4 linked regions of the Homo sapiens genome follow. The protein of the gene in region 2 interacts with the protein of the main gene of each other region in a pairwise test. Each region holds a gene or a part of one and is shown on either strand. Other genes may lie near its edges. The genes, in order: JPH3, RAB38, A2M and MECP2.

What was found.
Region 1: the proteins of RAB38 (region 2) and JPH3 interact in binary tests that used the Homo sapiens proteins (3 or more experiments, as listed by UniProt).
Region 3: the proteins of RAB38 (region 2) and A2M interact in binary tests that used the Homo sapiens proteins (3 or more experiments, as listed by UniProt).
Region 4: the proteins of RAB38 (region 2) and MECP2 interact in binary tests that used the Homo sapiens proteins (3 or more experiments, as listed by UniProt).

Annotation. Positions count from the first base shown.
Region 1 is NC_000016.10:87,689,499-87,696,522, forward strand, and holds part of JPH3 (junctophilin-3), read left to right. Parts: intron 1-147; coding exon 148-1,028; intron 1,029-5,138; exon of another isoform or gene 5,139-6,643; intron 6,644-7,024. UniProt on the Homo sapiens protein: Junctophilins contribute to the formation of junctional membrane complexes (JMCs) which link the plasma membrane with the endoplasmic or sarcoplasmic reticulum in excitable cells.
Region 2 is NC_000011.10:88,172,420-88,179,897, reverse strand, and holds the start of RAB38 (ras-related protein Rab-38), read left to right. Parts: upstream 1-4,454; 5' UTR 4,455-4,513; coding exon 4,514-4,715; intron 4,716-7,478. UniProt on the Homo sapiens protein: The small GTPases Rab are key regulators of intracellular membrane trafficking, from the formation of transport vesicles to their fusion with membranes.
Region 3 is NC_000012.12:9,098,915-9,105,938, reverse strand, and holds part of A2M (alpha-2-macroglobulin isoform a precursor), read left to right. Parts: intron 1-1,538; coding exon 1,539-1,700; intron 1,701-4,264; coding exon 4,265-4,492; intron 4,493-4,731; coding exon 4,732-4,795; intron 4,796-6,415; coding exon 6,416-6,558; intron 6,559-7,024. UniProt on the Homo sapiens protein: Is able to inhibit all four classes of proteinases by a unique 'trapping' mechanism. This protein has a peptide stretch, called the 'bait region' which contains specific cleavage sites for different proteinases.
Region 4 is NC_000023.11:154,024,704-154,031,727, forward strand, and holds part of MECP2 (methyl-CpG-binding protein 2), read right to left. Parts: intron 6,751-7,024; exon of another isoform or gene 6,748-6,750; coding exon 5,664-6,747; 3' UTR 1-5,663. UniProt on the Homo sapiens protein: Chromosomal protein that binds to methylated DNA. It can bind specifically to a single methyl-CpG pair. It is not influenced by sequences flanking the methyl-CpGs.

The sequences.
Region 1 (7,024 bases), on a different chromosome or scaffold from region 2:
TCCCCTCCCTTGCCTGCAGCCTTTCGGTGAGTGGGAAGCGCCTCTGCTGCCCTGAGGTTCCCTCTGGCGCCCTGGCCCGGGGACCGCGGCCTCGCTGTGGAATGTGCTGGGTAACGCCGTCTGGCGTCGTCTTGTGTCCCCATACAGGGCTGGAGTACCAGAGGCCGAAGCGTCAGACCTCCTGTGACGACATCGAGGTGCTGTCCACCGGGACACCCCTGCAGCAGGAGAGCCCCGAGCTGTACCGCAAGGGCACCACTCCCTCCGACCTGACCCCCGACGACAGCCCCCTGCAGAGCTTCCCCACCAGCCCCGCGGCCACCCCGCCGCCCGCGCCCGCCGCCAGGAACAAGGTCGCCCACTTCTCGAGGCAGGTGTCGGTGGACGAGGAGCGGGGCGGGGACATCCAGATGCTCCTGGAGGGCCGGGCCGGGGACTGCGCCCGCAGCAGCTGGGGCGAGGAGCAGGCCGGGGGCTCCAGGGGTGTCCGCAGCGGTGCCCTGCGCGGCGGCCTGCTCGTGGATGACTTCCGCACCCGAGGTTCGGGCCGCAAGCAGCCCGGGAACCCCAAGCCGCGGGAGCGGCGGACGGAGTCACCCCCCGTGTTCACGTGGACTTCCCACCACCGGGCCAGCAACCACAGCCCCGGAGGCTCCAGGCTGCTGGAGCTGCAGGAGGAGAAGCTGAGCAACTACCGGATGGAGATGAAACCCTTGCTGAGGATGGAGACGCATCCCCAGAAAAGACGCTACAGCAAGGGCGGCGCCTGCCGGGGCTTGGGGGACGACCACCGCCCCGAGGACCGGGGCTTCGGGGTGCAGAGACTGCGGTCCAAGGCCCAGAACAAGGAGAACTTCAGGCCGGCCTCCTCCGCGGAGCCCGCCGTGCAGAAACTGGCGAGCCTGCGGCTGGGCGGGGCCGAGCCCCGGTTGCTGCGTTGGGACTTGACCTTCTCCCCGCCCCAGAAATCCTTGCCTGTCGCTCTAGAGTCCGACGAGGAGAATGGGGATGAGCTCAAGTCCAGTACGGTGAGTGGGCGGCCACCAGGCTGGTCCCAGTGGAGGCAACATCCACCTCTCTGCTGACCTGGTGTTTCCTGAGGGTTTCCAGCAAGGTCACTGCTCCCCTGTTCCTCTCCAGGGGTGGAGTAGGGTGGGGGTACAGCCGGGAGTGGTGGCCCTCAGGTCGCTGGGACCCTCCCCTAGGAAGCCAGGTGGGGCAGGTGTCATACCTCTTTCCGTGAGAGGCTGCCCCCAGGTTGTCCAGAAAGCACACGAAACTCCTGGTTTCCAGGCAGCATGGGATCCCTGCGCTCCCCGCAACGTGCTCAACCCCAGCTGCTCCAAGAGTCTGTGCCCCTGGTCAGTAGCCTTGGGCCGTGAGATGACCGCTTGAGTGTCCTGTGTCCTGGATAGGAACCCAGAGGCGAAACAGCTGGGGGCAAGGCTGGCCCTGGGGCTGGGAGTCAGGTCTGGGGTTGGGGGGAGCTGCCAGTCCAGGTTTCTCTCACCCATGGGGGGTGTTGGGGTTGGAGCCGGCTCCCACGTGAGGCCCGCTGTGTGCAACTCACCGTCAGCCTCACCCAGCACCCCCCCCCCAAATTCGTTCCTCCAGGGCAGGCAGCTTGGAGGGAAGAACAGCGTCCCCCTGGGCTAGACTCGGCGCGAGGCTGGGGGTCCCAGGCTAGACTCGGTGTGCGAGGCTGGGGGTCCTGGTGCCTCACACAGGGCTGGCCTCCCCTTGAAGGGACCTTCACTCTGCAAATCCCACCCTGCTCCCTTGACCAGTGCTGCAGGAATGAAGGGCTTTGGGAATGAAGGGCTGTGGGACGGTGGCTACATAGGATCTGCGCACGGCCAGGCCCTCACCCCAGCAGGGCTCTGCTCGCTCGTGGCTGCCAGGCAGTGCGTGGTGCTGAACAGAAGTGCTGCAAGCCAGTCTGCCCCTCGGGTGTGAGGACGCAGGGGGGTGTCCGCAGGGGGCGCTCAGGGCGTGTGGGCCGGGCAGGGGGGACCATTGGTAGGTTTATTGTCGACGCTGCGGCAGGGGTCGGTGTCTGTCCCTGCCCCTGACCTAGGGGAGCTGTGGTTTTCTCCTCCTGCCAGCCCCACCCCCAGAGGGGTCACCGCGTGACACCCCTTTGAAGGGGCACGTCCTGCCGGGCGGCAATGCCTGTTTCTGCCTCTCCTTGGAACCACTGCGGACGTCTGTCTGTCCTGTTGGGTTCCTAAGATGCCTCCCCGTTCCCCAAAGCCCACAGAGAACAGCCCCTATGCTCCTGCTGGGACCAAAATACCAGCTCACACTTACAACTTGATTTTCCCCATCGCAGCCGGAGATGTGTGCGTGGCTGTGCGCGCGCGGTTATTTTAGGAACAGCCAAGCAGTGGGCAGGGTGGGAGGTGTAGGGACGGGTTCTATTTTTAGCCTGCTTAATGCACTGACACTTTTGGGTGCTTTTAAATGAACCTCCCTGGGGGTCAATGCACAAGCTGGGGACAAGTGCCAAGCTGGCCTCTGGGATGAGTTAGCGACACGCAGGGTGCTACATGCTGCCCTGGTCCTGCCCGGTCTCCAGCTGGGGCTAATCTGGAGGTCCCGTCAGCTGCAGCATCATGTCCCACCCACCCTGGAGGATGCCAGCTGAGCTCCTTGGAAGTGGCCACCCTGGGGTACCTGGTGCTGGTGCAAACAAGGTTTCCCTCCCTGTCTCCCTCCCCGTCTCCCTCCCCACAGCTTTGGAGCTGTGTTTTCTGCCAGGTCTGTGAGGGGAGATGGTGTGTAGAGGCGCGGTCAATCCTAAGCACTGTTCCAGGCCCTGTTGGTGGGAAGCAGGAGGGGCCCGTGCCAGCCGGCATCCATGTCAGGGGACAGGTGTCAGGGCAGTCGGGTGCCAGGCTGGGCTGAGTGCCTTCAGTGCCACCCCCTCACAGGGGTACAGCTCTCTGCAGTGTCTCCCCTGGGCCACCAGCAGGGTCTGGGGTGCTGTCTTCTGGCCATCCCCCTCCACCATTCCCAACATGCTGCAGAGCTCACACGCCAGAGGCCCTGGGTCCCACTGGCCACAGATGGGCCTGGGATTCTAGCCCACATAGGGTCCCACTGGCCACAGATGGGCCTGGGATTCTGGCCCGTGTAGGGCCCTGGCAATTCAGGGTAAAGTCCCTTAGGATGGAAGCACAGGTTCTCCCTACCGCTCTACTGGTGAAGGAACTCTGGCCCTGGCTGTTTCCCTCTTGGTGAAATGATGGATATGACCTGATGGTGGGGTCCAGGGTTGGAGGATGGCTGGGGAGACAGAAGCTTCCCTCCTGCGGGCAGCCACGCCCTCGCCCACAGCGTCCGTACCTGCTTCCCGGCCCAGAGCACGGGCTGGACTGTGGCAGAAGAGGTGCCACTGACCACCCCACTCTGTCCTGCTACCCCACTACAGGCTGACTAGCATCCGGCCCTTCCTCCTCGCTGGGGTGGGGGAACTTTGCACCAGGGGTGGCATCAGTGGGCAGGGCTGGGCCCTTGGCTGTTCTCTGCCCCCTGCAGGCTGGCCCGGCCCAACCAAGTTGTCATGGGGCCCAAGACTCACAATACACCTGCCTGAGGCCACGATGCCACGGAAAGCTGGGCTCAGGGCAGCTTGCTTTCTCTCTGGCTGAGTGGAGGCCCTTGCTGTGTCCACAACTCCACTTCCATCTGCGCCTCAGGTCCCTGATAGGCTGGGAGGTTGCGGAGGGTGTGGGCCTGGTGCTGCTGTGGCTGCAGGTGCCCCCTAGGCAGCACCTCACCCTCTGAGGACCCTCCTCTCTGAGCTGCATCCCAAGGACAGTTTACAAAGCCCTTTGCTGACTGGGGTTCAGCTTATCTGTTGAGCAAACTTTTTCTTTAAAAAGTTTCTTGGCCAGGCACGGTGGCTCACACCTATAATCCCAGCACTTTGAGAGGCCGAGGCAGGTGGATCACCTGAGGTTATCAGTTCGAGACCAGCCTGGCCACCAGGGTGAAATCCTGTCTCCACTTAAAAATACAAAAATTAGCCGGGCATGGTGGCACACGCCTGTAATTCCAGCTACTCAGGAGGCTGAGGCACAAGAATTTCCAGAACCCGCAGGAGGCAGAGGCTGCTGTGAACTGAGATCATGCCACTGCACTCCAGCCTGGGCAACAGAGCGAGACTCCATCTCAAAAGTTTCTCAAGCCAGTGTCTCTAGGGCCTGAGGGCTCCAATCCCCAGTGTGAGGTGAGGCGCTCGGGCCTGGGAGCTGATGCCCAGCATACAGTCGGGGGTGCCCCTGCCAGGTGTGGTGCAGAGCACGGCGGGGGTGTGTGAGACCTGAGGATAGCGTCTGGATGTTTCTCTCACGTTAACGGGAATGAGATAGGCTCATTGGCTGCTCATCCCCAAATCCAAATGGAAAACCGCCATTCGGGCCAGGCAGAGGCAAGTACTCCCACCCGTTGCCGCTGCCGTGTTGAGCCCACCGTGCCGAGTGGTGTTGGCAGGAGCCTCCCGAGGAAGCTGTGCCAACGCAGGAGTGGTCAGAGCCTGTCCAGGCCACAGACGGGGCTACGATGAGCACTGCTGCCCAGGGCATGTTGGGGGCAGCTCCTGGAGACCACAGGGAGGGGAGGTGGGCACCCAGGTGTGGGCAGAACTGGACCAGGAGGAGGAGGGGCAGCAGCTTGCTCAAGGCACAGGGCCTCAGCCACAGGGTGGCGGGCTGGGAAGGGGCGAGGGTGTGGTGGGTTCTGAGTGCCCCATGCAACGGCTGTTTTGGGCCACGTGCTCAAGCAGGCACCCAGGGAAGACCAGCCTAGGTGCTGGCGTGAGGCCCTTCAACATCAGCTACGATGCTGCTTCATCAGGAGCACAGCCTGGGGAAAGAATGAAACTGACCCAGGAGACAAAAGGGTCCCCGGGCCAGACGGTCAAGCAGGAGGCTGCTTCGCTGCCGCGGGATGTGGCATCCAGGCTAGGCAAGGGGACGGCAGGCTGCCATCCCCAGAGGGAGTTCTCCGGGCAAGGCCGTGACCCCACTGGGGCTCTGAGTTTGCATCCTTCCTGTGTGTCAAGAGCAGAGCCGGCCACTGCCAGCCCATAGCTCCCATGGTGCGGCCCTGGAGAGCTGACTTCATGCGGGATGTCTGCTGTTCTTTGCGTAGCTTTACTGAGACAGAAAGCGTGTACTGTTCACTTCAGGTGGCCACAGTGTACAAGTCAGGGATTTTAGTGTATTCCCAGTTATACAGCCATCACCCCCAATTCTATCTAGATCAGCTCCATCACCTTAAACCTCAGGGCCATTGAGCAGGCACTTGCTGTCCCCTCCTCCCCCAGCTCCCGGACTCTGCTTTCTGCCTGGTGCCCAGCTTCTCACGCAGCATGCACTGCTCCTGCGCTTTCTCTGTGGCAGCCGCGGTTGCACGGCCCATGTCTTCCCCGCTGTGTGTTCATCCTCCACTGGACAGCTGGCTCTGCTTCCACTCCGTGGCTGTTGTGAATCCTGCTGCCGGGAGTGTGTGCACACACAAGGTTTTGAGTGGAGGCTTGACTTTGCCCTCTTAGATTTAGGCCTGGGAGTGGAACTGCTGGGTCCCCGGTGTTCTCATCAATTCTCTTCCAGTCTCTGGGAGAGGAGCCAGCAGCAGCTGCTTCGTTGTGGGTGGGGGGAAGGGGGAGGCCCGTTGTTCGGGCTCCCCTCCTTAATGCAGGCCTGAGCAGCCCTCACCTGGTGCCACATGAGCTACTCAGTCTTAACAGACCACCCCATCATGTCTTTGAAATTTGACCAGAGGCCAGACTTGGGGGCTTAAAGGAGTCCATGGAAAACCAGTCTGTTAACAGGGAGGGGGAGGAGAGTAGCCATCCCTGAGGAATGTGCATCCTGGGACCTTCAGGACAAGCCCTGGTCCATCTGTGTCGCACAGCAGCAGGATGTCTGCGTGGTAGGAAGTGGAGGGCTCCGGGGGCTCTGAACAGCTCCTTACCACAGTGGGGTCTACATCTCCTTCCAGGTGGCTGCGAGATGCAGGGCGTGGTGGGGGTGGGGAGAGGCAGGGGCAAGTGTCCTCTGGAAGCAGACTGTGGGCAAGACTGGAGTGGGTGTCCCAGCCATTCCTGGGCTGGGGCCACCGTCCAGGAGGCGTCCATTCCCTGTGCAGCAGGTACTGTATCTGTAGGGCAGCACCCACCCCTGCCGTCCTGGGAGCTTCCCAGAGGGGCCACGCTCCCTCTCCCCCTGCCTGGTGTGAGCAGAACACAGCAGAGTGCAGGACTGCAAGAATCACTGCAGAAGGGCGCCCCCGGAAAAGGCTCTGTTGTGAGACGTGTCCTACCTGGCCCCGGCAAGCACAGGGAAGGTGGCAGCTTGGTCCGAGTGCCCAGGCTGTGCGGCTGAAGGGGGAGTCTGGCACTTGGGGCTCCGGCGGAGGCTGAGGACTTGTGAGCCACTTCAGGGAGGTGGTGGCAGCAGCATTCAGGACCATAACCTAAATCCAAGGCAGCTCGCAATTGGACACAGTCCTCCAGAGCCAGTTGGCGTGAGGGGTTTGTTGAGGAAGGTGTGGTGAGGGGGGGTTTTGTTGAGGACACTGTGCTCACGGACTTTGGGAGTCCTCTGAGTTCCAGGGCCTCTCTGCTGGGCTGCATCTGACACTGGCCATGGCAGCCATGCGGGCCCTTCTGAGATTCTGAGGTCCCAGTTCCACAGGGCAGGAGAAGCCTGCTGACTGGCACAAAGGCCACACGCACCGAGACGTTTGCTTGCAGGGAGGCCTGGGTGGTTCTCTCCAAGGGGACCCTGGGAGAGCTGGTACTCAGGGTGTCGGGGCCACAAGGGAATTCCAAGGGAATTCCAGGACCAGCAACCTCAGACGTACAGGCAGCTGGGGCTTCTCTCCCGCGTCTGGACTTCACGGAGCTCAGGTTCTGGTGGGCCTTTGGTGTCCAAGCGTTTCTAACATCCTCCCGTACGCTTCCACCCCCGAGGGTCTGCTAGCTTGGTGAAAAGACGTGGGTGGGAGGCGTGGT
Region 2 (7,478 bases):
TTCACTCTCAAGAGTCATAGTTTGAATGATAAAATATATGGTCATTTCTTCCAGGCCTTTTGCAGAGTAAAATTCATCTGTTGTAAGATATATTTCTTGTATTAATCTAAGAAAAATTAGATTACCTTTTCTATAACAGAGCCCTTGGGACCCCATCTTGCAGTCATTTACATATTTCTTCAGAGCAATAATTAAAAGCTCACATAAGCTAATGAATAACTCCCCATGGCTCTCTTAATGGCAAAAGCAAATAATGTGACTTCACAGGGGCTCACCAAACACAGCAGCTCTAGGAGGAAAACATGAGGGTTTGTCCCTTCAAGTTTACATTTGCAAAGCAATTTGCAATCATTGTAGTTTTTCCATTTCATAAGACTAAGTACCCACATTGGACAGAAAGGGAATGGAGACTAAGAGAAACCTAATGCTGTGCCTTCTGGGATATCATTCTTGGCTTGAATTCTGAGCACTTTGTGGTCTCACACACCTTTTACAAACTTGAGTCATCAGCCTTCCCGACCTTGGTGAGAAGATGTGCTGTGGTTTAGCAATTTGAGGGTAGTAAGCTTGTCAAAACATCACCAGAGATGTTTTGAGAATTACTGTGGAGAACAGGTTTCCATGGTGCAGTGTGGCTGCTGGGAGGGGGACGAATGGCACAGCTGTTCTCTCCATGGGGAGGAAGCACTGGATCTTTTGTGTCAGAAAAAGCTGAGATCCTCCTGATAATCCTAAGCCATCTTGACAGGTATATGTTCAGGTTGGGGAAGATAGGTTCTGAAGAAGCATCATAATTGCAGGGGACAGGGTTGAATGAAAGAGGAGGCAAGAATGGTCTAGCTGCTTGATAATATCCTTTCCATCTATTCACTGTCTGGCTTGATCCAGTTTATAGTTTGTCCCTGGCTACCTGGCTCCCTGTCTGCAGCCTAGTTCTGAGTGTAGAAAATAAGTTCAAAGCAAGGAAGGGGAGTACATGAAGGTTTGTCCTCCAAAAAGAATGTTCTTGGATTGCCTTTGTCTTGTGGGAAAATGTACAGCAGCAGAGGAAAGAATAGCACCATGAAACCAGAGGAGAACTATGGCATCATGTTTGCTTTGAGATGGCCTTTCTTCCAAACCTAAAAGAGGAGAGAAAACATCACCTCTTTGGCAGTGGTGCTCTTGTGGGGTGACTAGAATCAGCTAGGGTGTCACTCCTACTAGACAATGTCTAGAAGACCCAGAATTCTGATATTTTAGAGTCCAAAGGACTTTCCAGAGATCTTGCAACCTAACTCCCTCATTTTACCCAAGGGACTTTCAGGTTCAGAGACCTAGGCGCCTTTTACGAAGATTTTACTGAACTGCTAGGCTGGGGTGCTTACCAAGCTACTGTAATCTAAAAGTCTTAAAAATATAAACCGAGAGTAATTTCTTCCCACTGTGAAGAATGATCATGAGACCTAAATGAGTACGGCTGGAAACAAAACTGCACATACTTCCTGCCTGGCCAAGGAACTTGCTCACCATGGTTGGCTGCTGTCCCTGAGAGAGGAATCTCCTACCCCCAGAGAGGCAATAAAACTGAAGCTTCAGGACCCCTTCCAAGGCCCTAGACCTAATTATATATTTTTGATTTTGCATTCTTTTGCTCAAAAAGCTACTTCCTCCAATTTTATCAGCTTCAGGACCAGAAATCCTGAACTTTGCCCTGCCTGTCCTACCTCATAAATCCAAATGTCTGATGTTCCAATATGCTCTTGCTCAAAAGAGAACAGATAAGGGTGAGGATGACTCTGCCGGGACCAGGCTTGGGAAAACAGTACGGGGCTGGTAAGAAAGTTGGGTTGGGTATAATTTTGAAGGCTGGCCCACAAGATGTCTCAAACTCCTACCTTGTTTCTACCCCAGGAGCTTGTTGGCCAGACAAAGCCTGTCTCTCAGATTTACAGACCCAGGATTTTAGAGCTGGCAAAGGTCTCATTTTGTCATCCTCCCTAATTTTGCAGGCATTTAGAATGGCTTAAGCATCTTGGGCTACTGAATTCCCCTCCCTGGGAAGTGAGGTGACATTGTTGGCTAATTCTTTAAGCAGGTAGAGTATTTGTCTCACTTGTTAGATGTGATCTTCTTGGTGTGTCCTCGCATGGGTGGAAACCAGTAAATGAGGCCTACCCAGCTAAGCACTTCAATAAAACACAAACGACTGCAATTCTACACACTGTCACTTAGTGTCCATTCTGAGCAAAACTTCTGAGTTACTCTCTGAGGAAAGATGAAACTGCACAGGACAGTGCCTGTGGACAGTATTTTAAGCTTGTCCCTCATTTCATAGTAATAGCTACAATTTATTTACCACCTACTATGGACCCAGCATTTTATCAACAATTTCATTTGTATTTATTTATTTATTTATTTATTTATTTATTTAGAGATAGAGTCTTGCTCAGGTTACCCAGGCTGGAGAGCAATGGTGTGATCTTGGCTCACTGCAACCTCTGCATCCCTGGTTCAAGATAGTCTCCTGTCTCAGCCTCTCAAGTAGCTGGGATTATAGTCACCTGCCACCACGCCCGGCTAATTTTTGTATTTTTAGTAGAGACGGGTTTCACCATGTTGGCCAGGCTGGTCTTGAACTCCTGACCTCAAGTGATTCACCCACCTCAGCCTCCCAAAGTGCTTGGATTACAATCATGAGCAACCATGCCCTGCCATAGGTATTATCATTCTCCTTTCGTTGATGTGGAAACCAAGGCTCAGAGGTTATGTGACTTGTCCCGGGTACACATCTTCAGCATCCCTCTGCTTGTTTGGGGCATGTGGAGGCTAAAGTTTAGGGAGTGTCAGGCCAGAAGAGGAAGGCAGAAAGACAATGGCCTTGCCAAACCTCCTTTCTCCCTTTCACACAGGCCTGTGTTTAAGTCCTAGTTCTAACACATACTAGTTATGTGTGCCCTTGAGAAAGCTGCTGTTAATCTTGGTTTCCTTATTTATAAATTGAAGAAAATAACCCACTTCATAAAGCAATTGAGAAGATGAAATGATAGAATGTGAGCAGAGCTCCTTCACAGCACATTCAGGTACAAAATAGCTCATTTTGGTATAAACTGCTCACCCCCTAGCCCTGAATGCCCAATTTCTCATTTTCTTTATGTCTTTACTAAATTGTCTCCATCTTACTGAAACCTTCCCTGGCCACCCTATCTAAAAGGCAAACCCCATATAATCTCTTCACATCCCCTTTCTGCCTTATTTTATTACCAATTAATATATGACAAATTGTATTTATTTTGTCTTGTCCTGTCTCCACCCACAAGAAGGTAAATTTTTCTTAGGCCAGTAGGCATTGTCTGCGTTAGGAGGATGATACAGAAATCCTAACGCAGACAATGCCTACTGGCCTCAAAAAAATTTACCTTCTTGTAGGTGGAGACAGACAAGACAAAATAAGTACAATTTGTCATATATTAATTGGTAATAAAATGTATATTGGTCAAATGAATGAAAACAAACAACAAAAACAACAAAAAGAAGTTGGGAACCTAAAGACCTATGTTTGAATTTGGTTTTTTTCCTTACTATTTGACTCTGGGTCCATTACTTAAAATGTCTGGTCCTTAGCTTCCTCATTTGTAAAATAGGAAGAAAAATGGTATCTATTATTAAGACAGCTGGGATGACTAAATGACATAATTTATAAACCCTCTGGCATATAGCGAGTGCTCAATAAATGTTTGCCATTATTATTATTTGTAATAATCTGACCGATTGTTAAAACTGTCTTTCTGTGCAGCTCTGAGTTTTTAGGATATGGGAAGAGGCTAAAAGTCACCAGTGCCCTTGGCATTTTCGGCCCAGTTGTCCTCCTTGTTAACTGATTACCAGTTGAATGGGTGTGAAAGTGCTCAGTGTTCCCACCTCCAAGCTGCTCAGAGGTCAGCATTGCCATTCATTGAGAAATAACAGGCTGTGAGAGCTCAAATGACTTACTTATGGTCCCTCAACTTAAAAACCAGGGCACGCAGGAACCAAGCCCAGCCAGTCTTGGGCTTCCTAATACTGTAATTTCTCTCTACAGTGTGGGGTAGTTAAGAGCCTGTGACTTCAGACCTGTGGTCAACGGGGCCTTTCACCGGCCATCTCCCGCAGAGTACTTTTTCACAATCAGTTTTCTCGCAAGCAAAACGTGGAAAATAAGATCCACACCTCACAAGTTTGTGGCCAGGGTCACAGGTGAAAACAGCTCTTCGGAAACTCTAAAGCGCCGGATAAATAAGCGCTGCAACAGGCAACCACACGCGAACCCCTTTCAGCTGCCAGTCCCGGGACTCGCTCCTGTCTCCTCCCCTCTCCAAGACCGCGGAGTAGGAAGGAGGATTAACCCCTAGGGGAGGAGTTCCGCCCCCCAGCCCCCGCCCCGCCGCCCACGCCTCTCTCTGCACCTACACTTGCGCTCCCCAAGTCTCTCTCGTGCGCAGAGCCCAGGCTGCGCTTCCCTGGTCAGGCACGGCACGTCTGGCCGGCCGCCAGGATGCAGGCCCCGCACAAGGAGCACCTGTACAAGTTGCTGGTGATTGGCGACCTGGGCGTGGGGAAGACCAGTATCATCAAGCGCTACGTGCACCAGAACTTCTCTTCGCACTACCGGGCCACAATCGGCGTGGACTTCGCGCTCAAGGTGCTCCACTGGGACCCGGAGACTGTGGTGCGCCTGCAGCTCTGGGATATCGCAGGTGAGCGCGGGGGGAGGGGGTCAGGGGGATAGAGCGCCTCGCGGCCGGTTTCCAGTCTCGAGGCAGCGGCTTGCGGCCAAGCGTGAGATTAAAATCACTAGGTCGCGAGGCAGTTTTTCCTGGTGGGCTGGAAACTTAGTTTCAAAGAAAAGAAAAACGTCTGAAACTTCAAGTGCATTCCCTGGCGCTTTTGGGCTATTGCTTTAGCTCCTTCCCGCACAGTCCCCTGGGATCTCTCTGCCCAGAGCAGGCCTCCCCAGGGAACCAGAGGAAGATTGTCTGCAATTGCATTCTGTTCTCCACTCCAGCTCGTTTTCTGGGCGCGGGCAGTTCTGCCAATGACGCAGCCCAGTGTCACGCACGTCCTTCCGTGCAGGGGCGGACCGAGGGGAAGCCCCTAGGCTGGTTCACAGAGGAAACCGGGATAGTTCCAGGCTAGCTGGAGTTTGCCCATTCCTGTCTTCAGTGGCTCACTTTATTTCAAATTTTGTCACCTTTCTCTCTGCCCTTAAGACAAAGGAGTTTGAGGGTTTTTGTTTTGTTTTTTTTTTTTTTTTTTTTTGCTTTTTGCTTACAGTAAGCCAAGTACTTTTGTGTGTATATGTCAGGGGCAAAGTATTCTTTCTCCCTCTCTTTCTGTATTTCTATCTCTCTGGCTCTCTGTCTTCTATGAAAAGGAGGTTGTGTGTATATTTTAAGGCCATTTTTATGTAAGGGCCTATGATAGCCTTATGATTTCTTGATTTGGCCCTAAAGTTTTCATTGAGAGATCTGAAAAATGAGAGGTTGTTTGTTTTTGTTTTTTACAATATTTAAAATCAGATTTTGACTCCACAGGTTTGTACCAGAAGTTAGGCCTAGTCAAAAGTGAGGGTGCAATGTATCTACTCCAAGTGTGAATCCTTGGACAAGGCTGTTTGCAACCTGCGCATGACCAACCCCTCATTACAGATTTTAGCCCTGCCACTAACTAACCTGCTCAGTGGCTTTGGACAAGTCTCTTCAGCTCAGTTGCATCGCTGTTAAGTGGAAAGGAGTTGGGCAAGGGTCAAGGATCTTCCTGCTCAGAAGTTTTAAAGTCCTCTGGGATTCTCCATGGGAACAACTTCAAACAGTCTTATTTCATGGTCTGTGACACCAGGAACCTTTCGTTATAAGTGCTGGACCCAAACTAGCCACTTCTGTTTCAGAAAATGGATTCATTTTAGCTGATGCATTTGATTGGAAACTCTTTATCATGGCTTGAAACTAGAACAAATGTGGAAAATTTTTGAAAGGGCATTTGTGATCTGGGGACTTTCGTGCCTCTTTAATCATGAACTGCCAGGCCTTTTTCTTTTAGCATGTGAACAGATGAACAGATTCATGCATTTGGAGTCATCTTCAGCTGCTCTAGTAGCAAGGGGGTTATCAGAGAACAGAAAATGTTATCAGCCACTGTTGGATGGGGCTTTTCATCTAAAAAAATTCTCTCTGTGTACTTTCTTGCTGCATGTCATAATGTCTGAAAACCCTTCTGGCTGCTCGAAAGTCCTCAGGATTCAGATTTAGAAACGGCTTACTGTTTAAACGGGGATGTAGCTGTAATTTGGACTTCTGTGTACAATCCAGGTAACAGCATGACAGCAGAGAAGTTCTATGTCTGTAGATTTCAGTCTCCTCACATAAACAGAAGAGATGGAAGGGTACAGTGATTAATAGCCCAAATTCCAGAGTTGAACTGCCTCCATCTGGATCCTTACTTTACTCTGCATGTAGTAGGCAATCTTAGGTAAGTTCTCTAACCTCCTTGTTTTGGTTTCCTTACTTGTAAACAGGGAGAATGCTTTCTCCCAATAGATGACAGGTGAGCAACCAACAGTGCTAGCTGAAGGTGATCATGCCTGTTCTCTAGGAGATCTGCAAGGATTATTATCACACTAGCTACCATTTTTTTAAGCCTATATAAATGCTAGGCAAGAAGGATATGATATACAAGTGCTTATTAATTCCTAATAAATTGTGATCCCAATATTACATATATATTTTGTCCCCAAGTTATCACCATTTTCAGCTTTGCTCCTGACATACTCTCAGGAGCAATTTAACTCCCAAGCTCGAAAGCACTTCGTTAGCCATGTTTTGTAGACTGAAGTTGCAGTGGAGGCTGTAGTCACAGAAGTCTGTATAAATAAGAAATCTGAAGTCTTGGGAAGTTCATTCTACAGATACTGCGGTGGTGTTACATTCAACATCTCAGTAGAGGAGCTTGTTTTTCCCAGAGCTCTAATGCTCAGTGGTAACCTGTCTTTAGCAGCCTTAAGCCCAAAGGCCCTGTTAGCTGAATTATAGATTGGACAGCAGGCACAGTGAATTGGGTGAAAGCTAGGCCACTGTAGGAAATGGTTGGAACATGCACGTGCTCCATGTTTCATGGTTTAAGCTGCATAGGGAGCCATGTGGGTTATGAGTTCATGTGAAATACAACCTCAACTGCCCACCCAGACTCCAGTCAGCCAGGTGTACCTTATAGTACTTTCAAATCACAGCCTGTCTGTCCACAGATAAGAATGCATCTCTCCGTCCTTAGTGTTCAACTCTGGTGTGTCCCCGGAGAGAGCAGGTAGTGGAGGTTAGTGGGCCTAGCTTTGAGAAGGTTGTGGGTGTTCAATGAGATAGAGAAGACCTGCACTGTTCTGATAGGATATCATATACATTTGTTATTAAGGGAATCTTGGCTCAGCTAGACTCTTGATACTCATTTGGTTCAATGCCAAATAGGGC
Region 3 (7,024 bases), on a different chromosome or scaffold from region 2:
TCATGGTTTACCAGGCAGTCTCAGGTTTTTATGACATTTTCTCACAAGAATCTCAAAATTCATGCTGACCAGTTTCATTACGATGCTAACACTAACTTTGTATGGAAACAGGTGGGTAGGTGGTTTTAATTTTTATTTTGAAGTATTAAAGATTCTACAATAATGTTTATTTCATGGATAGTATATTTACACTATTTTTCTATAACAAGTATATTTCTAAAACAGTGAACATGGGGTAAAACACTGCTATTTAAGGTTCTCAGATTTTTGAATTATGAATTTTCATGTTATCTACCAAAAAAATCTTCTCTTACAATTTTTCTGTTGTCAGCAGATGTGCAAATGGATCTTTATGACTCTAGAAGTCTGAGATCACAGTTACATGTGCCTCAATGTGTATTTACTGTGTATCATTTTCTTAATGTAAATGTTACAGGATTTCAGCTATGAAGGGTGTAAAAGAGGCATAGACTCAACAAAGTGGAGTACATTCTAGAAGGCTTGGTTATGTCATGACACCAAAATGTATTCAACTTCCTAAAATGAAAGTGTAGCTCATTTGTAAATTTCTCAGAAAGATAGTGTACTTTGTAAGTACATTTTATTGCTGTTAAATATCCTATTTGTCATAAGACTCTCTAGCTAGAAGAAAATCAGAATTATGTGCCTATTCTTGTCTTTGTACATGCAGCCAACATTTCACTGGCAAACTTAGATTTTGTAAATCAATTATGAGTACTGATGGGGGTCAGCCTATTGTTCTTCCTGCTACCAACTGTAGCTTATACTGAAAAAGAATTGCCACCTTTACAATCTGAACTGGACTACTCAACTGCCAATACAATATTAGCAGTAAATTAGATTTGGCAACTTATTTAATACTGTGTGCCTCTTTTCAATTTTATATTTTTCACATGGGAAGTGTGTCATAAAATCTGCCTACCTTCCAAAAGGCTGAAGATCTAGGTTGAGAAGCAGAGACCATGTCTAAGGCAACTGGAGAAACACACAGGACAATGTATTGGCAATTGTTTACTTGTGCACTTATGAGACTTCAGACACTAATCTATAGGAAGTTAATGGTCCACTCCAAAATAGGTGTTTGGGGCACAAATAAATTTAGTTAATAGATTAATAGATTAAAATATTTCATTATCATATTACTCTAGTGCTCTGTGACTCTCTAAGAGTTATATATAATAATACACAGCACTTCCAAAATATCTAGAAGACATTTTTCAGGTCACTCTTGTTATTATCCCTATCACTCTCTATCCCTTCACACTGCTCTGTTTTTCTTCTTAGGATTGATTACTACTAAATTAGTGTATGTTATGTATATATTTATTTAGCATCTATCTCTTTCACTAGACAGTAAGCTCTGTGATGGAAGAAACTTCGTTTTTTTTCACTGCTGTGTCCTCAGTGCCTGGAACCATGTTCAACATAGAGGAGGCACTAAAAAATGTGATAAATGAATATGTTTGGTGCCTATTAGTTATTACCAATATAACTAATCCACAGCTTTTAATCTTCAGGTGCGCCTAGTAGATGGGAAAGGCGTCCCTATACCAAATAAAGTCATATTCATCAGAGGAAATGAAGCAAACTATTACTCCAATGCTACCACGGATGAGCATGGCCTTGTACAGTTCTCTATCAACACCACCAATGTTATGGGTACCTCTCTTACTGTTAGGGTAAGTTTGGAAAGAAATTACCAATGACATGAAGTAGCCTTGGAAACAAGGTTGCAACCTAAGGGTGAGAAAATTTCCAAACTGTGTCTAGTTCTATGGAGAGAAAAAAACTAGCAATTAGAAACCGATTGAAGGTTAACTTTTTTAAAGTTTATGAAAAGAAGGCAGTATATTGTGATTAAAAGTGCGGGTTAGACTTTAGCAGTGTTGCTGGGAACGTAAAATGGCGGAGCCACTATGAAAAACAGTATAGTAGTTCCTGAAAAAATTAAAAAATAGAATTACCAAATGATCCAGTAATCCTACTTCTGGACATATATTCAAAAGAATCGAAAACGGGGTCTCAAAGAGCTATTTGCACACCCGTGTTCATAGCCGCACTATTCACAATAGCTGAGAGATCGAGGCTACCCAAATGTCCATCAAGGGATGAACAGGTAAACAAAATGTGGTATATAAATACAACAGAATATTATGCAGCCTGAGAAGGGAAGAAAATCCTGTCACATGCTACAGCATGAATGATCCTTGAGGACGTTATGGTAAGTGAAATAAGCTAGTCACAAAAAGACCAATACTGTATGATTCACGTACATGGGGTTTCTAAAGTAGTCAAAGTCATAGAAACAGAAAACAGGATGGTGGTTGCCAAGGGCTAGGGAAAGAGAGAAATGGGGAATTCCTCTTATTGGTATTCAGGTTTAGTTTTACAAGATGAAAAGTTCTGGAGATCTGTTGCACAACAGATATACTTAATACTACCAAACTGTACACTAAAGAATAATGAAGATGGTAATTTTATGTTGTGTGTGTGTGTGTGTTTATAATAACTTTTTTGAAAAGTGTGAATTCCAGAATCTGAATCAGATAAAGTGGTTAAAAATACTGGCTCAACCCTATTTTAAGGAATTAACTAAAACCTCTGTGCTTCATTTCCTTATCTGTAAAATGATTGCAATACTAACACCTGACTCTTGGGGTGGTTGTGAAGATTAAGTGAAATCATACATGTTGAATCACTTAGTAAGCCCCCTTTAACTGTTAGATACTTTTACTATAAAAGCCAATTCTAACATAATTAGCATTTAGTTTTAAATATATATACTCCAAAAATTATTACCTTACTTTATTTTGTCTTGCTATTCTAATTTTCTCCAGATGACCTGTTCATACCAATATAAGTTATTCGGTATAGCATGCAGTCCTCTATTCATCAAGAGAGATGTAGACATGTCTATAGATACATGGATATACAATACATATTTAATATATATTACATAATCATGGTAATGGAAAACGCCTGCCTCTTTAGAGTTTTACCTTGTTATAGAGAAATAAATAATACATTTTATTTATTTAGCTTTAATAGATGGCATAAAAGCACCTCCCTCTAATTTGAATGTTTACTCATTTCAAAAAGTGTCTTGAATGCTTTCCACGTGCCAGCACTGTGCTAGTCTTGACAATGAAATTATTATTTCTACCTGTTCCCTGTTTGGGGTGATCATATATGTGTTGTCACCAAAATATACATTAAGATATGAACAAAATGTTTTGCTCAAGGATTCACTAGTGCTATTGGGAGCTGGGGATGAAGGTAGAGGAAGCCTGAAAGGAGCTAAGGAATAACTTCTACAGGAAGAAAAGTTGGAAATATAACCCAAATAGGGCCTCTGAGGTATTAGAATCCAGATTGCAGGGAGCATTAAAAATAGTCAGCCTAGGCCAGGCACGGTAGCTCACGCCTGTAATCCCAGCACTTTGGGAGGCTGAGGTGGGTGGATTGCGTGAGGCCAGGAGATCGAGACGAGCCTAGGCAACGTGGTGAAACCCTGTCTCTACAAAATATACAAAAAATTAGCTGGGTGGGGTGGCATGCACCTGTAGTCCTAGCAACTCAGGAGGCTGACTGGGAGGATCACTTGAGCCCCAGAGGCAGAGATTGCACTGAGCCAAGATTGTGCCACTGTACTCCAGCATGGGCGCCAGAGCAAAACCCTGTCTCAAAAAAATAATAATAATAGCAATCAGCCTAAGATAGCCCAGAAGAGGTAGACTTCAGCTAATTCATCAGCTCAGCTCTTAAACCAATGCTTTCTACCAATGTCTTCTCAGACCCCTAAGGTTACAATATTTTATTTATTCATAATACCCATTCAAAATCCACCCTAAAAGAGGCAGCTGCTTTCTGAAAGCACAGTTCTTCCATTTCTAGAGATTATTTACTCTCCTCAATGAAGTTTCATAGCTCCAGTGTCTCTAATTGCACAGGTAAAGCAGTCAAAGAAATTTCAAGCAAGCTAATCAGAGCAAAGGATGCCTCCTTTTATGCTCTTAAGAAATATAAATCTCAATCCCAGGAGGCTCTGCAGTGTAAAGTCACAAAGCATGCCTACATTTGAAGCAGAGAAACAAAATCAGGGGTCCTTCTCCCACTTTTCATTGTGGAACAAAAGATTTCTAGCTACTAGTTAAGGTAGGACAGTAAACTTACGTAGTTTTGTGAGAACATTAATCTTTATGACGTATAATCTAAAAATAATATAATTTTTCTAATTCATTAGGTCAATTACAAGGATCGTAGTCCCTGTTACGGCTACCAGTGGGTGTCAGAAGAACACGAAGAGGCACATCACACTGCTTATCTTGTGTTCTCCCCAAGCAAGAGCTTTGTCCACCTTGAGCCCATGTCTCATGAACTACCCTGTGGCCATACTCAGACAGTCCAGGCACATTATATTCTGAATGGAGGCACCCTGCTGGGGCTGAAGAAGCTCTCCTTCTATTATCTGGTGAGAAGGGAGGTTACTGCGTTGACTTCACTGTAGACAAAAGCTCTCTGTGGAGCAAGTAATCATGAAGCTCTTTAGATGTCATTACTTCAACTTCTTATCCATGTTCCTTTTGAAAGTTTGATTTCTCTTGAGGTGAATTATTGCCGGCAGGGACTCAATAAAACAAGTATATTGAAGTGAGACTGAAGCGTGTTCTCTCTGGCACATTTAATTTCTTTTTATTTCCTTTTTTGCAGATAATGGCAAAGGGAGGCATTGTCCGAACTGGGACTCATGGACTGCTTGTGAAGCAGGAAGACAGTGAGTATTTCCATCATCTCTGCATTGCTGCCCCATTCTGACCCATTCAGCCTTACACCACGGAAGTATCAGAATACTTTCCCTTTTTTTCCATAGGTTTTTGGGGGAACAGGTGGTGTTTGGTCACATGAATGAATAAATTCTTTGGTAGTGATTTCCGAGATTTTGGTGCACCCATCACCCGAGCAGTATACATTGTACCCAATTTGCAGTCTTTTATCCCTCACCCCCTTCCACCCTTCCCCCTGAATCCACAAAGTCCATTGTATCATTCTTATGCCTTTGCATCCTCATAACTTAGCTCCCACTTCCTAATAGCTTAGCTGCCACTTCCTAATAGCTTAGCTCCTACTTCTGAGTGAGAAGATATGATGTTTGGTTTTCCATTCCTGAGCTGGGAATATCAGGAATACTTTCAAGTAACGAGAGACCATTTCCATCTAATATTAATTAAAAGAAAGTTGAGGGAGGGAAAACAATAATGGTTTTTTTCTCACCCTTTATCAAATATGTGTTGTCTTTTTTTTCAGCCTATTTTCTTTGCGTTATTTAAAATATTGGTGTGGGCCAGCTATGATGGCTTACGCCTGTAATCCCAGTACTTTGGGAGAACGGGATGGGAGGATCTCTTGAGGTCAGGAGTTTGAGACCAGCCTGGTCAACATAGTGAGACCCCATCTCTATAAAAGTAAATAAATAAATAAATAAATAAATAAGAACAAAGGGGGAAAAATAAAATACATAAAATATTGTTGTGTATAATCTATGCTTATTCCAGATTTTTAAACCATAAATATTCTTGAACCTCTTCTCAAAATGAGAATTGTGTTAGAGAATGGGGTGGAGAAAATGTACGATTTCAAGGTATGTTGTATATACCAGGTCTTGTGCTGAGTCATTTATGTCATTTATATTATTATAAATATCTTTTTTCCCTTTCAAGATAGTTATGATTTATGAAGCATTAAATTGGGTACTTCTACCGACTGAAGCGGACTCTTGCCATGAGCAAATATGTCATAATATAAACCTTTGAAGGTTGCTCCTAGTCTAGTAGACTCTAAAAGATAACTTGCTAGAAAAGTATCAGTAATCTACTCTCTCATTAGTTCTTGTAGCAACACAGAAGCACCATAGCAGACTGAAGGAAACTTAATGCAACCTCTAAAGAATCTACATAGGCATCAAAAAATAACTTCTGAAGGAGCATGGTGTTCCTCTTATGGAGAAAGAACCAAATATTGGCTCATAGAAGGTTAAAGAGCATGTAGCATGAATACAATGTGTTGAACTCTTACTCTTACATCTCATAACTTCAGGTTCTATTTCCCTCTTCTAGTATGAGGCCTAGATCAAATGGTAGTGAATTGGATGTCTTCATACCCTTAACTAGCATCAGAACATTAGGTGGGTGAGCTGAAGCTTAAAGCTGGTGAAAAATCAACAGAGTATATGATTTATGAGAGGAGAGAGGGCTTTGATAGGGTTTTTTTCTAAAGCTAGAGTCCTTAGAGGTAATCATCCATTTGTTACATCTACTGTTTATTATGTCTGTTACATCTACTAATGGAAATAGTCATTAACCTATGATGGCTTCCTCTCATTCTCTTTGTGCCCCAGTGAAGGGCCATTTTTCCATCTCAATCCCTGTGAAGTCAGACATTGCTCCTGTCGCTCGGTTGCTCATCTATGCTGTTTTACCTACCGGGGACGTGATTGGGGATTCTGCAAAATATGATGTTGAAAATTGTCTGGCCAACAAGGTGTGTGTTTTAGATCATAAAATCTTCAACATGTAAAACTAGAAGTTACTATTGTTATCATTTGTTTTACACATGTGAACATTAGGGCCAAAAGGGTTAAACAAATTCCCCAGAGACATTCAGCAAGGTAGTGGCAGAGTCACACTAAGAAGCAGAATCACTTGATTCCTTATACAAAACTCTCAAACTTCTCCTAGCAGTGCCTCTTACCAATTACACAGTTCAGAGTATGTTATTCCCTTCTTCTATGATGAAACGTTGGGAAATATGTAAGCAAGTTTTTAAGACTACTAAGGAGCCAAAAGAAAAATGCAAGAGCACCTAGACCCATGCATGTCCCACCACAATTAATGAGCACCTTGCCGTGTATCAAAGATAAAAATGGCATTTCATGACTAGTAATTTATAAGAATAATTAGAAATAATTCTACTGGCTCAAGTGATTCTTGAGAATGAAAGAGAAGTG
Region 4 (7,024 bases), on a different chromosome or scaffold from region 2:
TGACCAGCAGACAGATTTGTCGTTTTTTTTTCTTTTTTTTCTTTTTTTATTTTCCCTTGTCCTATGCTATGGTTATCAGAAATATTGTAATTAAGCAACAGGTATAATTTTAACAGGTCTTTTTTTGTGTGTGTGGAGCCACAAGCAAAATGAGTTTATAATTGTGCAATATACAGATATATATATAAAAATTCAACTGCTTTGTGTGTCTAGTCGGTGCGTTAAATAAAAGGGACAGAAAAACTAAAAGCAAAACTAAAAAGCAAAACAAAAGCCCAGGATAGAGGAGACAAAGCAGGCCTATGCGCACAGTCTATGTGTTACTGGATATAATCAGGGTCACCAGGAAGAACAGCTTTGCCACTTGACACACAAACACTGCGGGGAGAGGGGCTATCAGTGGGCAGGAGCCAAACCTCTTGGCCTTTTCACCTCATCTGCTCTCACTGCTGAGCAGGACCTGATTAAAGGTAGGACAGAATGGGGGTTTGGGGGCAAAGAGATTTCCAAATTCCCCAAATGTTCTTGAATTCAAAGGTAGGATTTCCTCCAGGGTCTGGGCTCTGCCTGTGCACAAGTCGGAGCCCGGAGCGGGAGCTGGGGGTTGTGCTCCCTCCTTGCACTGCCCTCACACCTGCTTCCTTCTGCCTCCTGACAGGGCAGGCAGGGGGCCTTGGGGAGGCAGTGAGAGGCCAGCTCAGAAGGCTCAGCTGATCCGAGGCGAGCAGAGCAGGAGTGGGCAAGGCAGGCTGCCCCTCAGGCAGAAGTGCCTTCCTAGTTCCCTGGGTGTTTTCCTGACACGTCAGCGCTGGGGCAGGCTCTGTCAAGATGAGAAGAGTGGGAAGGAGGGTGGTGCTGGGCCTTCCAGGTCACTGGTGAACGCTCCACCTTCCATACCACTCCCAAAAGACAGGTTCAGAAGCCATGTCCTCAGGTCGGCTACCTCCAGATTCCCCTTGCCTGTAATGCTCACCAGGCATCTCAGGCCAAGTGCTAAGTATTTTTAGATCAGCACTGTTGTAAAAGCTTGCTCGTATTCATTCAAAAACATCGAAATGTAATTTTCTGCCAAATGTTTTCTAGGTTTTCCTTCTAAATTGTTGAGAACTGACTTCAGTGTTCAGCTTTTCCCCTCTAATATGTAATTTTAGACCCTGGGGGAGGCAGTATCCTAACGATTTATAACAAGTAGACTATGCCTTTTCTAAAGATTGATACAATATCTAAAAGAGAAAGACACCAAAATGGAGAGAATCAACAAATCCCGTCAGAGCAGAGAGAAGAGTAGGAAGACCCGGAGGGAGCAGGGCTCTGCCCCCCCACCGGGCAGGTCCTCCAGACCCACTCCATGGTAGGAACTCTAGAAACAGCTGACTCCCTGAAGTCTAGGACACAGGTCCTAGAATCTGCAGGTGTGAACTTGAAACAGGAATCCATTTGGGGCAATGACACAGGCTAAAAATGTATATGCCCAAAGATCTTCTTAAAGAACTGGTACCTGTAACCTCCCCTGGCCCAGTCAGCCCAGAGAGCCTGACTGGAATGCTCTGGAAAAGGAGCTGTGGTTAGACGGGGGACACAGAGTTCTGGCTGTCAGGCTCCACTTGGGCTAAACCAATTCCAGATGGTCCCGCGCAGGGGACTCCGCTCGTATCCCTCTGCTCCCTCCTGGGCTTGAGCCGCTTACTAAGTGATTTAAAATTCAGAGATTCTGTCAGCTAAAGAAACTCCTTTCTCCACCCAACTTGGCAGTTTGTGTCTGGTTATTACCCTCTTTCGCCATCACTGTCACAGCAATGAAAAGCTGGGCAGAGAAGCAGGTGACAATTTGGGGCTGCTCCCTGTCCCAGGTGCACTGTTCATGCTTCGGGCCTGGAATGATGCCACCCAACAGAAGATTGTCTGCACCCGCACTGGCGCTCACGAGTAGCAGCTTCCGCCATCCAGCGAGCTGAGAAGCTGGGGCCGTTGGCTAGTTTGGCACTGATGGATTGGGGGATGTGGCGTTTCTGGGTGTCCCCTGTGTCTTTTGATATGGGAATACAGCATCAACAGAAGGGAGCTGTGCTAGCGCCTGGCTGTGACCAAGTATCTCCAGCTCACTGAGCTGTCAAGACCGGCAATCCCACTGGCTATGACAAGCCCACCAGCAGGCAGGGCCGGGAGGGGTAGACCTGGGGGGAGCTCGACGACATACAGTATTGTCAGGAGAGGAGGTAGTAACTAACAACTGGAACAAGGGTGGGGGAGACTGTGGATGTGGCCTTAATGACCTAGCCCCATGGGTACTGGAAAGCTGTCGGTCAATTCTGCTGTTCACAAATTCACTGAAAGAGGCCCCCATCTTCATAATGTTCAAGTACAGACAAAATTGAAATTGAGGTCACACCCCAAAACTGGGCCGGACACAGCTGGTGAGAATCCTGCAGCTTAAGGCTTTCCCTCCAACCTCCTGTCAACCTGACCCCAAGGCAGGGGCAGCATGAGAGCTGCAGGGCCCCTGCCTGCCAGGGCGATAAACCGCCAAGGCTGCCTGCTGAAAGGCGACTGACTCGTGATGCCTTTGGGAAAGACGAGGGAATGAGGAAGAAAGGGGGAAATAGAGAGAAAACCCTAAGGAGCCTCAGGCCCCACTGGCAGCTCTGGAATAAACTGGAAGGGAAAGAGGCTGGGCAACTGCCTCTTTGAGGGAGCTGCAGGTGGGGCCCGAATGAAATAAAGTGACGCTTGAAATGCTGTGTTCCCAACCACGACTGCCCCATCGGCCCTGAATGAACTGTCATGGGTGACAGGGGGGCCTGGTGGGCCACGCACTCCTCTTACCAGGACCAGATGACGCCCAGGTGACGGGGAAGCAGCTCTGGACAATGATTCCAGAAGCCACATTACATTTGACTAAGTATAATACATAAAAACCCAACTGACCAAAATAAACATCTTCTCAGTGACAACCTGGTCGGATGCTGCGCTCTCGTGGATAAGTGTCCTTTGGTAGTGCCAGGAGTTCGAGGCCACTATGGGGGCAGGAGCCTTCTGTCCTTGGAGGAAGAGTTCTGGAGGACTCACCCTCTCTTCTGACCCCCCTTCCCTTCCTGGGGAAGAGTCAGAAGTGAAGCTGGGGGGGTCATCAGCAGAGCAGGTGGAAGGGATCAGGGATCAGGGATTGGGCTGATGGGAGTTTGGTTGCAGGACTTGCTTTTACAGCATAAGGAAATGGACACATATATGCTAGAAAGTCCAACTATGAGACTCTACAAACAGAACGGGGCAAACTCCCTCACTTCTAACCATTCCAGAAGAGACAAACACGGTTTTTTCTTAAGCTACTGATTGGAACTGTCAACTATGGTTCCTGATCACTAAAGACTGGCAAGGAAGTGCTAGACAGTTTCTATGATGTTTCACTCCTTCATGATTACACCATAGTAAGGAAGCCAGGGACAATAACTGAAATACACAAGACAACACACACTTGACAGTTCATGGCAGCAGCTCACATGGGACATGCCTGTGGGTGTTTCTGGAAGCATAAGACTGCTGTCTCATTTGCTACTTTGATAAGGTACTTCTCAGTTGGACAGATTTAGATATAAGAGACATCTCTGTAAACACAGAAAAGGATATACCAATATGATGAAGATATGCAGCTAGATAAGGACTTCCTGAACAGAGGTTAAAAAGATGGGATCCCACATGAAAACTGATCAATTAAAAACCCACAGCAAGCCCATGCCTCTAAGCCCCTACACCACAGCTATGGACCAGACAGACAGTGAAATGTGTGGTGTTCTGGCCCCCTGTCTGCATCGAGCAAAAGCAAAACATTGCCATTCAAGAAGAACTCCGAGGGAAAAGGGGGAGCAGAGGAAGGGCTGGGGACCCAGGTACTGGTCCCAGCTCGGGTCTTGGGAGTTCTGCATTGGTACCGCTACTGCCCTGCTGCACTACGCTAGACTCTGGACTTCTGAGTGAGGTCAAGGTCGGCTGGCATGGAGCCCCTGTTGGGCCACTCGATGACTGGCAGGCCACAGGAGGCCTCTGTGCTTTCCTCAACTACCAAATCGGGCCCAGCTCCTCCAGTCCACTTCTCTAGAGTAGAAGGGTGAAAAGGCTCGTTGTTCAGGGTGGGAAATGCCTTTTGCTTTTTCTTACCAGGGAAGAGGGGGCTACCTAGGAGAGCAAGACCTTGCTGCTCTCTTGCTCTTCACAGACAGGCCAGGTCGGACTCAGCAGAGCCCAAGGCCTCCTCAGGGCTCAAAACAGGGTGGGGCTGGTACTGGCAGCAGGAGGACAAAGGGCAGGCAGAGTTCTGGGGACTGGAGCCGACAAGTGTGGTTGGGCACCGCGGCTGCCTGGAAGAGAAGGGATGAACTAGGAAGGAGGAGGATGGAGGAAGGGAAAGAAGTGAAAGGATGAAATGAACAAAAGGCAGAAATGGAAGGGGAGAAGAGAAACCAATCAGGAAGTCCTTATAAAATTGCAGCAAACACTTAGAGTTTCGGAGCTTCGTGGGAACCCTATGTGCTGAGCCCACTTTAAAACAAGCGCAGGTATATATACAAATCCAGGTAGTTCTCAACACTGTCACATCTGGTGGCTTGAGGGACTAAATGTCACCAATTCAAGCCAGTTTGCTCTCAGAGCATCTGTTTGTTTTGAAGTGGGAACATGAAGACTCAATAGTGCAAATAATTCTAAGCTGTCCCTAAAGGAGAATTGGAAAGTAACTGGAAGAACATTTTCTTCTCCTCCCCCTTTGCCCCCTCCCCTGTCCACTAAGTCACAGACTGCTCTGAGTGATTAGGAATCCCTCTCACCCCGCTGTGCTCTGCCCGGCCTGACCCCAGGCCAGCCTGCCTGCACCTTGTCCTACTGCCTCCATGGCCTCTAGCGCCACCCGTTGGAGGACGTCCCTTGAGAATGGACCATGCCACCTCACCCTGGGCCATCCTCTCCTGTGGTTCAGGCCAGTCTACACCCAGTAGTTCAAGGGACTCCCCCCTCCTAGCCATGCCAGAGCTGGAGCAGACAGGTGCCACTTTCCTGTCCTGTGAAGCGTCCTTGCCAGTTTTGGATTGGGGCTGGTGTGGGGCCAGACTTGAGCCACCACGGGTGGGATCGCACAGGCCATAGCCACTGGTCATATCCATCTTCTCTAAAGAATCCAACTGTCTCTCCTGCCTCACACCTCCCTGTCCCAACGTGGTTGGGAGTGGGGGAGGTGGGGGGAGCTGGGGGAGCTGTAGACGGGGCACTGATGGCACCGAAAACGGGAGTGTCCTCTCAACTGCTCTGTCGCTCTGTCTCTAACGACCACATGGGGGAAAGGTTTGGGCGGGAGGGGAGGTGCCTGGTCAACAGCTTGTCTGGTCAGTAGTATCTGCAGCAAGCCTTGTTGAAGGAGCCTAGTTTAGAAAAGTGCAAAGCTACTTCTGGCCCTGGTTAGGTCTTCAACCTGACTGTGCTTGTCGGTAAGAAAAACATCCCCAATGCTCCAACTACTCCCACCCTGAAGCCACGAAACTCTAAGTTTACTGAAAGAAAAAAAAATATTTTTTATTTCAGTTAATCGGGAAGCTTTGTCAGAGCCCTACCCATAAGGAGAAGAGACAACAGCTGCCTTTATTCTTGTTGGTTTGCTTTGCAATCCGCTCCGTGTAAAGTCAGCTAACTCTCTCGGTCACGGGCGTCCGGCTGTCCACAGGCTCCTCTCTGTTTGGCCTTGGCATGGAGGATGAAACAATGTCTTTGCGCTCTCCCTCCCCTCGGTGTTTGTACTTTTCTGCGGCCGTGGCGGCGGTGGCAACCGCGGGCTGAGTCTTAGCTGGCTCCTTGGGGCAGCCGTCGCTCTCCAGTGAGCCTCCTCTGGGCATCTTCTCCTCTTTGCAGACGCTGCTGCTCAAGTCCTGGGGCTCAGGGGGGCTGGTGGGGTCCTCGGAGCTCTCGGGCTCAGGTGGAGGTGGGGGCAGGGGTGGGAGCAGTGGCACGGGGGCCTTTGGGGACTCTGAGTGGTGGTGATGGTGGTGGTGCTCCTTCTTGGGGGGTGAGGAGGCGCTGCTGCTGCGCCCCTTGGGGCTGCTCTCCTTGCTTTTCCGCCCAGGGCTCTTACAGGTCTTCAGTCCTTTCCCGCTCTTCTCACCGAGGGTGGACACCAGCAGGGGCTTCACCACTTCCTTGACCTCGATGCTGACCGTCTCCCGGGTCTTGCGCTTCTTGATGGGGAGTACGGTCTCCTGCACAGATCGGATAGAAGACTCCTTCACGGCTTTCTTTTTGGCCTCGGCGGCAGCGGCTGCCACCACACTCCCCGGCTTTCGGCCCCGTTTCTTGGGAATGGCCTGAGGGTCGGCCTCAGCTTTTCGCTTCCTGCCGGGGCGTTTGATCACCATGACCTGGGTGGATGTGGTGGCCCCACCCCCCTCAGCCTTGCCCCCTGGCGAAGTTTGAAAAGGCATCTTGACAAGGAGCTTCCCAGGACTTTTCTCCAGGACCCTTTTCACCTGCACACCCTCTGACGTGGCCGCCTTGGGTCTCGTGGTGCCGCTCCCTTTGGGGCGTCCCCGGCCTCTGCCAGTTCCTGGAGCTTTGGGAGATTTGGGCTTCTTAGGTGGTTTCTGCTCTCGCCGGGAGGGGCTCCCTCTCCCAGTTACCGTGAAGTCAAAATCATTAGGGTCCAGGGATGTGTCGCCTACCTTTTCGAAGTACGCAATCAACTCCACTTTAGAGCGAAAGGCTTTTCCCTGGGGACTGTGGGGACAAACAGAAAGACACAAGGAACAATTAGAGGCTCTCCATAGCAATGTCAGAGATAGGGCAGAGCGGATGGTGGTGACAACGCTCTGACAAACGTTACTATTGAACGAGAGTCACACTGCCTGGCTGCCCCTGAGGACCTGTCACCAAAGCCACTCACTCGTCTGCCTGCCGCTGACCCCCCCAGGCCTCTCCAAAGTTCAGCAACCAAAGAGTCAGGCCTGGTACAGAAGGGTTGTCAGGCTGAGGCCCATTCTGCTGGTTGGTGCCT